Homo sapiens: one gene and its partner. Each later gene encodes a partner of the first gene's protein in a complex. Each region holds a gene or a part of one and is shown on either strand. Other genes may lie near its edges.

Region 1 (7,356 bases):
GTCTTCTTTCAGTTAACAGTTTGAAAATTATGCTGGTTTGGGATATAAACGAAAAGTTAATTTTAATGTAACAAATTATCAACATAATCTAAATTTACTTATACAAATATTTTATGAATAGGAAAGGTTTTAAAAGAAGTCAGCTAGTCAGTAACTGAGGGGAAAAATGACCTTGTTCTGATTTATCTCACGGTGGAACAGGGAGCTACAAAAAGACTACATAAACAGTTAATTAACTGTCCCTCGGTGAACTTGTTCCCAAAAAAATGTCAGTGATGCCCTTGAAATTAGGCACTATTGATCTGGAACTTCAGTGTGTCCTGGATTTCAAATCAACATTTATCCATTAAGGCCAGATGACCTTAATTTTTATTTTATTTATTTATTTTTGAGATGGAGTTTTGCTCTAGTCGCCCAGGCTGGAGTGCAATAACGAGATCTCAGCTCACTGCAACCTCCGCCTCCTGGGTTCAAGCGATTCTCCTGCCTCAGCCTCCCAAGTAGCTGAGATTACAGGTGCCCACCACCACACCCGGCAATTTTTTTGTATTTTTAGTAGAAATGGGGTTTCACCATGTTAGCCAGGCTGGTCTCCAACTCCTGACCTCAGGTGATCTGCGTGCCTCAGCCTCCTAAAGTGCTTGGATTACAGGTGTGAGCCACCAAGCCTGGCCGACCTTAATTTTTAAAGTTGCTCTTGGAAATATGACAGTTGTTGGTCACAGGAATTTAACCAAAAACTGATCCTACCTTTCTCAATAACTCAAACATCTTTTAAGTATTCCGTGTTTTCCTACACCATATCTGCCTCATAAACATGGACTGAGAAAGAGAAATATTGGTTTAAATTAAGTATGTAAAATTACTGCTATTATTCAAACTGTGAATCAAATTTAGAGTTTTGGTATATTCAAGTCCCTAAACTAGGACTAGTTTCTTGGAAAGAAAGTGTAAATCTGAATTTGGCACATAAGGATAACATCCTAAAGATACTCTTCTTTACTGAACCGTCTGGCTTTTGCAGCCCCATCTTTTGGTATTACAAATGCAGTTGGAACACTATCAGCCAAGGAACACTACCGTGAGTTCACATTAGCCCACAGGAACTCCACTCCACAGCTCTATCCTACTGAAAAAGTACACTGGAAAATACAGTATGTTTTATGTACTCCCCATAGAACATAAATAGAAAAGACTTGTTCACCATTATTGCAGAGCCATTTGCAATTTCTGTGTCTTAAGCCAAAATACAAACCAAAATTAAAATGTTGTCTTTCCAATAAAGCGAATTTTCCTTTCTCAAAAAGCCTGCTATTTTATCCACTCTATTTAATTTTTTCAGGAACTAACAACAATACAGACCCAGGTATGTCATAAACAACAGCACAACCAAACACTTCTTTCTAGTTCTGAAACCTAATGATCATTTGGCTAGAAAGATAGAGAACCCCATCTATAGTCCTCTATCCCTTTTCCTGACTTGGGTTTACTAGACCTACTGTTGTGGCTTCTTTCTTTCTCCATCTCCTGGAAATGCCTTTTCCCTTCAGGGGCCTGGGATACGGATTTTGACTCACAATGAAGTCCACTCCCATTTCCTCCAGACCTGGCAACAGTAGGATCCTCACTGCTGAGGAGGAACTTCGGTGAAGGAAAGGGGAAACTTGACTCAGGAGTCTCAGCGCTTACTTTTTTTTTTTTTTTTTTTTTTTCCTTCCTGCTCCAAAAGAGAGCCTTAAAGCACTGATGAGAGGGTCCTGAATCGGTGTATGGAGTCAATTTCCCCGCCCCCTCGAGAAAGTCAATCACACCCAGTTAGTGACCTGGGCACACAAAATCTCCACATAGGAAAAAGACAGGGTTTGAAATAGGAAATAAACAAAAATCAGAATTCTATTCTTTCACTTCTTAAAAGTATCTTTTTCCTCCCGCAATTGCTTTCTCAAAATACCAAACTTGGACTTTGAAATCAAGTTCTTTTTCTATTGCTCTCCGCAGTTCTTACTGAAAGCAAGGATTTGTTTTGGTCCCACATGTTGAAAACTTCACGTCCCTATAATTAAGAGTTTATATGCCACGCCTTCCACCGCGTTTCCCTGTTAAAACTCCCTTCTCTAAAAAAGATCCCTGAAAACACAACTACCAGCTCGCCCCTCAAGCAGCCACAGGAAACAGATCTGAAGATTCTCAGCAGCCATCCTAACCTCTCCAGATATAAAGCTGGCAGCTGAAGGGATTTCTCGGTTAAAATGAGTGAATACTAGTTGCAGTTTTAGAAGTGTGCCCCCAAGAGACGAGTTTTCCCGCAAGCTCATAATTAATAAACACCCCAAGTGAATTTCTCACATCCTGACTGGATTACACAAAAGGATATTTTACATTGATATATAAGACTAACATTGATATTCTTTTAATATATAATAGGCCACAAGGAGACAAAAAAATACAAAACTTTTTTTTTCTTTTCAACGAGCATAATTTTTGAGTCGATGATCCATAATTTTTTGTGGCATTTTTAAATGCCTCAATACACACAGACAGAGAGACACACACGCCCCTCTGGTTGGGGTTCTCAGGTATTACCGGGAGCCTAGGGTGTGGGGGTCTAAGGATACAGACAAGACCTAAACGTCCAATCCTGGAGTATTCTTCACGTACAAGCTCGGTCCAAGCCCCAGGAGTTAAGCCCTACCCCTCCACCCCCACCACCCCCAAAAAGTGCCCGTTCCCATTGGGAAACAGGAGTGAGTTGCACAAGGAAATCGACCCGGGGAAGAGGAGGAGCAGCTGCAACAGCCAGCTGCAGCCACACAACGGTGCCACTTCCCTCCCGTCTGGGAGTGGAGCAAAACGCCCTTACCTGGGGGGTGGAGAGCCGCCGGCACTAGTTCCAAAAGTTCTGGTCCACCTCCTCTCGGAGTTCAAAGCCCCAGCACTCCGGCCCGGCCGCCAGCTCGCAGCACACGAGTCCTTCCCCGTCCTTTCCCCACCCTGCCTGCACTACACCATGTCAGGAATCCGGGCAGGCACCGAGCTGGGAGCTGACATCACTCCCAGTTCCAGGTACCTCCCCCTCCCACTGCCGCCCTTCTCTCCTCCCTCCCTGCAGGAATCAGCCAAAGAGAGTCAGCAGTGGGGCGGGGCCGGGGGCGCCTGCGCGCCCGCTGATTGGAGCCGGGGAACGTCACTCAGAGGAGTCCACTAATTTTATGCATTCCTCGCTGAGCCAGACTAGGGCTGGAAGTGGGTGGATGGAAGAAAATGCTGCCCTTCCTGCTATCTCTAAGGAACGGAGATAATCCGATGGGGAAGAACCTGGCGGGTCGAGTTTTAAACTTTTCTTGTTGTAGTTACTGAGATTCCAGATCAGAAACGAAACTAACCCACGCGAACCCCCTTTTTAAGGAGAAACAATTGCCTCGGTGTCACAGGCACACGGGCATGTACAAGCCCGGCGGCGCGTGGTGTAGAAAATGGCTAGCTTTAAGCCATGCAAATAAAGGAAAACGTCAGCTCACCCTTCTGCCCTTTTATCCTGGGACTGCTGGGTGTTCCCTTAGACGGGGAATGTAGAACTTCAAAAGCACTTCAGAAAGATTTGGAAGAGACTCCTGAAAACGGTGACCGAGCTTTGAATTGTTAAGTGGTGGTGTTGTCAGCCATGTGGCTGCTGTTGCTTTTAGCGATGAAAATCACACCACACAAGCTTCTCGGGCAAGTAAAATTGAATCTCTGAAGCAAGAAAAATGTATTTCCCCGTTTAAAGACCTTAAGGCTGCTGTTTCAATGCACACACTGAAAAGGGTGGAGGAAGGAGGGACCTCACAATTGAGTTCCACAAACCACATGAGAATAATTACTGTAGAATGGAACCAATTGTAGTGGCTGAGCTCTCAATTAAGAATTAACTAACGTTTATCCTTGACAGATATCATGCGGTATAATCCCCTTGGCTGACAGAAGAAAAAGATTCTCAGAAAATGGTTCTTTCAAGGCAGATGCTGCTTACAGGCAGACCTGAATGGTGAAAAGCAGCTTTATTTGTATGAGATATAGGTAGCATATAACCCACCATCTTCTAAAAATATAGTGAATTAATAACTTTCTCTTTTTTTTCTTCTTTTTTTAAACAGGTCACTCTGCCACCCAGGCTGGAGTGCAGTGGCATGATCTGGCTCACTGCAACCTCCTTCTCCTGGGTTCAAGTGATTCTACTGCCTCAGCCTCCGAGTAGCTGAGACTACAGGCGCCCACCACCACACCCGGCTGATTTTTGTATTTTCAGTAGAGACGGGGTTTCCGCCATATTGGCCAGACTGGTCTCGAAATCCTGACCTCAGGTGATCCACCCTCTTCGGCCTCCCAAACTGCTGGGATTACAGGCGTGAGCCACCACACCAGGCCTCATTGTTTTTTGATTGATGACATGCCATACATTTACCGATCTGCCAAAAATTGTAGAGGGATGCACAGAATCCAGCATTGTGTCTTGTTTAATCTTCTCAATCATCCTGTAAATTGAGTGTTACTAGCCCTATTTTAACGTAAGGAATCAAAGGCTCAGCAAAGTTATGTAAGTAAATTTCTCCAAATCAGCTAGAACTTGGATTGAAACCGAGGTCTATTTGACTCCAAAGCCATTGATTTTCTTTCTATATCTCAAGTATTGAGTGTCCATAATTTATACTTTTTCAAACAATAGAATGCTACAAGAAATCCACAGGCTTGGGCCACTGCTCTCACAGACCTACTTTATATAATTACCATCTTGTTGCTTGTCAGACCTGCAGTATTCCAAACTCCTGACTTGAATTTCTGACTCCAGTTTCCCCCAGTTCTAATTATTTCTCTGTACCACTCACTACCGATGAGTTTTCTAAAATGTTTGGTTTTGTCATCAACATCTTCCCCTCTAAATCAGGTCCCCCTTTCCCTGCAATTCTTATCTAGCCATTTAAAACTCTCTCTTATCCTGCTTCTTACCTTTCCCAGCTTATCTCCCACTTCGCTCCCAGGAAACCCTCTCTGTAGTCAAACAGGTCTACTCACAGATCCCTGCTTCGTTCTCACCTTTCAGCCTAACCGAAATCCCCACTCCTCTGTGGGTTAAGTCCCACCCTTCTCTCAAAGCCTAATTAAATTAAAGTCCTTGTCCTCTGCCAAGACTTAGCTGTGTGTTACAGTGGACAGAGAAAAGGACTCAAGGTTCTTGGCCTGGCTCTGCCACTTAGCTATTGGGTAACTTTGGGCAAGTCACTAAAACATCCATCCCGAATCTCAGTTACCTCCTCTTTAAAATAGGGCTGACAATACCTATGTTAAAGGTTGTTATAAGGATTGAGATTGTACAGATGTGTAAACATGTGGTTATACATGTCCAGTTAAATGCCTTTCCTGCCTTCCCAAACTCTGAAGAGCAAGCATCTTGCTTATAGGACCTCTTTATATTCCTTATACCCAATTCAAGGAAAAGGCTCAATAAAAATATAGGGCATGAGAAAATAGATCATTGTATCATTTCTATTCTCTTCCATTCTTTAAATGCAGTCTATCCCCAAATAATCTCTCAGACAAAAACTTTAACTGTTTCTTCTTGTTCTTTTTTTCCTCTCTCTTTCTCTCTTTTTATGCCAGAAGGGCCAGAGCCCTTCTGTTCTCCCACACCCCTACCCACCGTTCGTTCAACACCCTTAACTTCCTCAGATCACTTCTGGACCAACTACTTCACCTGTCTCTTAATTAACTACTGACCCTTCCCTGTCCCACAGTCAGGGACACAACTTGTCCATCAGTGTCTGTTGCCTGCCTTGCTCCCAGATGCCTTCAAACGGAGGCTGGGTGGCTACCAGCCATTCCTCCAGCCCTAGTCAGGACGGCTGCAGCCAGGCTCACATTTTTCCAAAACTACAGCCAGCCACAGGAGATGGGGGAGGGAATGTCCCACCCCCACAGAGATGGCAGGATAGAAAAACAGGAAGTCGCCTCCCATCCTTTCTGCAGCTGGAGTGATAACAGCTGCCATCCAGAATCCAGAAAACAAAAGACTCAAAGGGAAGGCTGAAAACGGGCCAGGTCTGGAGCAGTAACATTCAAGCTAGAGGTTACAGAGTGGGTGAGGGAGGAACCAATGGTTGAGATTTCAGCCTCCTTCTACCTCCCTTTAACCAGAGTTACAGCTCTTTTATCTGCTCTACATTTAGGCTTCACCATGATACTTCATTTTTTGAAGACAGTGTAACCCTTAAATAAACATACTGAAATCACTGGCCTCTGGGTGTCTTGGGGAAACTCCAAAAAAATCAGGATAGTGCAGCAGAAGCAAGACAGGATGCCTGATGAGCAGGTAGCCAGAACTTACTCCTCACTATCCCGGCTCCTGGCTGGCTTAGTGCAAATGATCATTTATGATTCCTATGATTTCAACGCTAATTTATTCTGTAGGTCTAGATATTTTCTGCCTAGTTATTCCTATGACTAACCTTACCTTTGGTAACTTTTTGCCAAAGAGTATCACTATTGCGGGGTAGGGAGCAAGAGACACTGCAGAGCAGGAGAACACCTGCTCAATTAGAACTTGAAATGGATCCTAAAAGTCATTTGATGCAACCACTATTAAAATGCAAGAAACCCTTCTTCAGCATTCCTTACAGGTAGCTTCCAACCCCTGCTTGAACTTATCTGGCAACCAGTAACACACAAAATAAGCAAGCAGCCCACCATTAAAGATCTTTCTCGGTTGGGCGTGGTGGCTCACGCTTGTAATCCCAGCACTTTGGGAGGCCGAGGTGGGCGGATCACCTGAGGTCAGGAGTTCGAGACCAGCCTGACCAACATGGAGAAACCCCGTCTCTACTAAAAATAGAAAAAAAATTCGCCAGGCGTGATGGCGCATGCCTGTAATCCCAGCTACTCGGGAGGCTGAGGTGGGAGAATTGCTTGAACCTGGGAGGCTGAGGTTGCGGTGAGCCGAGATCGCACCATTGCACTCCAGCCTGGGCAACAAGAGCAAAACTCCATCTCAAAAAAAAAAAAAAAGGGATCTTTCTCATATCCATCTGGATCCTGCTTTACTGACTTTCTCCCCAAAGACATCTGTCTTGTGTCTCATTTAATCCTCACAAACATCCTGTAAGGTAAGTGTTATTAGCATCATTTTGACATGAGGAATCACTCTCCAGGGTTATACAAGTAAATTGCTCCAGATTCCCCCAGAACTGGGATTGAAACCAAGGTCTATTTGATTCCAAACCTATTTTGTCTTTCTGTGTCTGAAGCATTGATTGTCCACAATTTACACTCTCACTTCTGCCCTTTGCAGTAACAGAACAAGCTGACTCTTTAGTTACACCATCCCCA
Region 2 (5,239 bases), about 26 Mb from region 1:
TCCAAGCACAGGGTTTCTCGGCTCCTTTTACTCTTGGCACACACACTTTCTGTTGACCCAGCCTGCACGCCCCAGAGTCAGTGCATCAGAACGCGCCCTGCTGAAGCTTGAGTCCCAGTCCTGGGCAAAGCCCTCCCTTGGTGGCCGCCCTTCTGGCTCTTCTACCTTGGTACAACAGCAGCACCATCCCTCAGCGCTGGGCACCTACTCTAAGCTCTGGAACAGTGAGACCTGATACGGATAACCTGGCCCGGGGCTGAGGGTAGAAAGAAGGAAAAAGGGAACCGGGAATTGACTTTAAAAGCTGCAAACCCGGAGATCAGGCGGGAAGGGAAAGGAGGCTCATGCCCGTCAGGGCTGTGATGACTCCCACACCCACCGTAAATCCTGGGACCCCTGGCCCTCGGGCTGCCTGCCATTGGAGTTGGCCTCTTGGGCACTGCAGACCTTGTCCATCTTTTCTAGCATTTGGGGACACACCTTGCCTGGATGATCAGCTGGGTGACACTCAAAGAAGGACACAGCACGGTTTTTAAATAACTTTATAATTTCCTGGTGGATTTAGTTTGTGAATAAAAAAGAAAAAATGAACAAAGTGTTTACAATAATTATCAAGGCAAAGTTGAATATAACACAATTTCTTTGTAATGTCATTATCCTGTCAGTAACACAACTCCAGCAGGAACACACACATACAGCTGAAGGCAGCGGGTGCACGTGCATCCCAGACACCACCATGGAGGCTGCTACTGTTACCAAAAGGAACTCAAGCTACAAGGGGGCAGGTGCTCCTCAGCTCCTCCACTAAAGTGCAACACTTCTCTTCTGACGCATCAGGGAGCAGTCACAGGCCCCACTGGATATCCTGCAATGCCCGGCAGGTGCCTGGGCTAGTCCTGCGATGGGCCAGCAGGCCAGAGTGGGTGGTGCTGCCCTCAGGATGTGTAGCTGCAGTAGATGGATGCAATACTGGCGTGGTGTGGAATGAGGGGCTGGACCCAGAGGGCCTGCTTTGGCCGGGGTGAATTCTCTGGCTTCAGTAGGGTTCACTTCCTTTCCTGACAGTGGCTTCTCTGGGGTCAAGAGAGAGCCTGGGCCTAGGAGATCTAGGGTCTAAAAAAGCTCAAAGGGAAATAATTGAGGGCCTGAAGCCAGAAGGAACTGACATGGAGGACAGTCTGTTCCACCTGGATTGCAGGCTCCAGGCTGGCCAGTGCTCACCCGTGCTGGGTGGTCACTGGAAGAGATAGCACCAAGTGGGCAGGAGAGGTCCTGTGGCCTGCCAGGCAGGGGCTTCAGGGTCAAGCCCAGGTTACCATGCAGTATTAGGCACACTGAGCTAGAACCCACGTCGGGTGAGGGTGGTTATGGGGTCACAAACTGTGAAACCTCTACCCAGAGGTCCTGAACATGTATAGGAAAATCCTGGCACAACTGCGAGGCTCTGAGCCCCAGATTCTCGTTCCTTTTGCTCGGCAGGTGTCTCTTGCCCAGGCAGGCACTACCCTAAGTGTGCTCCATGCTTCCTAAGCCGCCAGCCCAGGGCCACCTATGCCAGCCTGGGAGGAGGGGAGTGTGGCTGCCCCATAGCTTGAATTCCTTTATTAACAAGATATTGGTTTGCATTTTTAAAACACAGCTGTTTAATTTTTCATTTCTACAACTACGTTTTAATCTTTTAATAATCTCAACAACAGACACAATGTAACTGCCCCAATTCTCTGAATCACACAGACAATATCGACAAGCAGAGAAAGAAGAGAGGAGGTGGGATGGGACAAAAACCCGCTCCCCCAAATCAATCCCTAAAACCACTTCTCCCCCAAGAGTCAGGAGAAGTACCTACAACAGGGCCACAGCACTTGCCAAACACATTGGAAAAAATCAGGAGACAGTTGGTTACATTTTTGACACTAAAAAGTCTGGAGACGGTTTTTGCTGAAGAGTAGGTGAAGATAGCCATTTTGTTCAGAAGGATTTCCCTGTAATGTATGTCTTTTCTTGCAAGAAGAGTAGGTGAAGACAGCCATTTTGTTCAGAAGGATTTCCCTGTAATGTATGTCTTTTCTTGCCTAATTCTTCCCTAATTTGCATGGGGGAAACTCCAGATCCTCTTTAAGACATTCCTTTGAGTGGTTCACGTCCCCTCCTGAGCAGCCCAGGGCTGGCAGTGATGGACGGGCGGCCTCACTCTGCAGAGGGTGCCTGCTGCATTGCAGTCTCTTCTCATCCTTCCTCCTCAGTTCCGAACCCAGGCAGGTGAAGAGGAGGCCAGGAGCAGATGTTAAATTACTGGTATTTGCTGACACAGGGTCCGCTGGGCTTGAGAAATGCCATGTGGTGTCACACTCCACGCAGCGGTCTTCTCTGCTTGGCTCTTTCCTCAAAGACTCTGAGGGTCTTGACACCGGGCCTACACTCAAGTAACATGGTCAACAGGAGGGCGGGATGGTTCTGGGAGGAACAGGACTCTGGCAGCAAATCCAAATGCCAGTGGATGGGCGGCTCAGAAACATTTATATTTTGGGGTGACACATGATGGTTGCCTCACAACCCTGACCCTCAATAGCGGAGGGATTAGTTCAGCAGGTGGCTAAGACCGTGTCTGTGATGACTTCGCCTTCCTCTTCTCTCACTCTGGGGGTGGGTGAGCCCGCAAGTTCCTCATGGAAAACCAGACTTCAATGGACAGAAATTGAGGGGCAAGTCACAATGCCCTTCTTGACACTGAAGGCGGCCTTGGGTCCAGTCTGCTTTACAAGTTATTTCTAAAACCCAAGTGTGAGGAAGTCTGAGAGCCACAGGTAGATCTTTAGATTGTAAAGTGCAAGGACAAAGGTTAAAAGGTTAGAGCTGAGATGAATTTGGTGATTCCCATCCATATATATATATATATATATATATATATATTTTTTTTTTTTTTTTTTAAATGGAGTCTCTGTCACCCAGGCTGGAGTGCAGTGACACGATCTCGGCTCACCGCAGCCTCTGCCTCCCAGGCTCAAGCGATTCTCCTGCCTCCTGAGTAGCTGGGATTACAGGCGTACGCCACCACGCCTGGCTAATTTTGTATTTTTAGTAGAGTCGGGGTTTTTGCCATCTTGGCCAGGCTGGCCTCGAACTCCTGATCTCAGGTGATCCGCCTGCCTCAGCCTTCCAGAGTTCTGGGATTACAGGCGTGAGCCACTGTGGCCGGCCCCATCCATATTTCTTAAACATGTTAAAGCCCGTTCAAAATTTTTCCATTTCAAATGGTATCAAAGTCCTTGCAAATCTCAATTGAGATACCTCATCAATGATTCAATGAGTACCGGGGGTTAGAGGTATATGAAAAGATGAGAAGCTCACACTGGGCTTCTTCAGTTACAAAACCCCGTTGGGATCACACCCACTCTTCTTCGTGCCCTCTTTATGGTGACATTGGTTTGGGGTGCAGATCTTTAGGTGCTAAAGGGCAACTAGACTTGCCGATGGAGGGGTTTGGGGAAAATTAAGGGCAACCTGCACTGAGTTTTCAAGGCTATATAACTTCAGTAGCAGTTGTATGCCCATATGAAACCATGACCACTAGGAGAGGGGCATGGAATGACAAGTCCTAGTGTGATGGGAGTGGGACATTTGGTTAAGTGTTGGTTCAATGATCTAGACTCAATGAGACACTCTGAAAGCTACAAACTGCATCCACTCTGCCCTACAGCACGAAGGCCACGTTTATTACTGAACTCCTAGCCAGCCTCCAGTGCCCAAGAACGGTCAAGAAGATTCCTTGCTGTTCACAGAGACCAGACAGATGATATCGGTCCCGGAAATGCTTCTTCTCAGAAGCAGTGTCACAGAGGGCTTCCTTCCATCCGTTTTTCTGGAGGGGAAGTGATGGAGAATGCTGAGATGAAGAGGAGAGTGACACACCCAGTGGCTGAGAGTGGCAGGCGCTGCACCTGATGAGAAAGTCCACGTGGGTGGGATCTGGGCCACCTGCTTGGAGAGAGCAGCTGGCCAGTGCCCGTGCCAGACCACTTGTTTAGGCATGGCCTCGCCTGCTGTCTTGGTTCCACCGTGGCCCCGTGAAGGCTGTTATCACACCGCAGTTCTTTACGTTATGGTGGATAAAGCGAGATGCTAACACTCCTGCCTTTCAGTGCTGGGAGCTTTCTACATGGTTTACGGGCACTGCAATGAACAGAATTGAGGTAACTGACCACAAACGACCACCACTTACTATCTAACCCCTGCACCCCTCTCTGGCCAGCCTGGCTATCAGGAAGCATCTCAGTAAGAGGTTTATGAGCAGAGTCCATTTAACCTTCGATAAGAAACGCTCCACAGTTTCCTCTCACAGGGAGAGGGATTGTTTCACAGCAGGGAGTAGGGGGAGCTGGAAATCTGACCATGTCAGTTAATGGGACAGTCAAGGGCTGGTGGTGGGAAGTTCCTGGACTGATGGGGCTGTGCTGACTCTACAGACTTTAAATTCTCTGAGTAAGTGGGGAAGGAGAGGAGAAAATGCAAAACAAAAACATCGAGTCCAGCAACTCTTATCAGGAGATGTGAGTGTCTGCTGGGTTCTGGTGGTAGAGGTGGTCAAAGAACTAGATTTGGGTTAAGTTCCTGCCTAATTATTTATGACTGCTGTTGTCTACGCTACGTCCTTAACAATGCCAATACCTTCATTGATTTGCAGTCTTGGGGTCAGCTTTCTGATTTGCAACATGAAGCTGGCTGAATTCCACGAGGTACATGCAGATGTCAGGAAATGGCCACCCACAAGTAGATACTCAGAGCCCCTCTAAGGGCAATAACAAACAGCAAAAATCCAGAATCATCAAATGGAATCCTACAGGCAAGCGGGTGACTGAGACCCCCAAACTCATGAATTCCATTAGGGAACTTTTCTAGAAAACACACCTTAAGATCGGGGAGGGGAAGGACATGCTATTTACTGCTTCAACTCCAGCAGGTATGTCTCACAGAATCCACTACATCTCTCCCTCACTGAGAAGTGGCCTTTTCAAGGATGGATGACTTGCACACAGTAGGCATTTCATAAATATTCTCTGAATGAAATAACCGAGGAAGGAATGTGTGTAGGAGGAAAAACCTTCATTTATGCTAGAAGAAGGTTCCAGGCAATGCACGAGGCTGAGGTTCAGAGAAGACGAGTCAAGGGCAAAGCTAGCAGGGTGAGTGAGGGATCACAACTTCAGCAGCCACTGGGCTGCAGGAGCTCAGGACACGGGTG

The links.
Region 2: PPFIBP1 (region 1) and ERC1 share a complex: the UniProt entries of both Homo sapiens proteins name them as parts of the cortical microtubule stabilization complex.

The regions. Positions count from the first base shown.
Region 1 is NC_000012.12:27,519,870-27,527,225, reverse strand, and holds the start of PPFIBP1 (liprin-beta-1), read right to left. Parts: upstream 3,021-7,356; 5' UTR 2,861-3,020; intron 1-2,860. UniProt on the Homo sapiens protein: May regulate the disassembly of focal adhesions. Did not bind receptor-like tyrosine phosphatases type 2A.
Region 2 is NC_000012.12:1,491,220-1,496,458, reverse strand, and holds the end of ERC1 (ELKS/Rab6-interacting/CAST family member 1), read right to left. Parts: 3' UTR 528-5,239; downstream 1-527. UniProt on the Homo sapiens protein: Regulatory subunit of the IKK complex. Probably recruits IkappaBalpha/NFKBIA to the complex. May be involved in the organization of the cytomatrix at the nerve terminals active zone (CAZ) which regulates neurotransmitter release.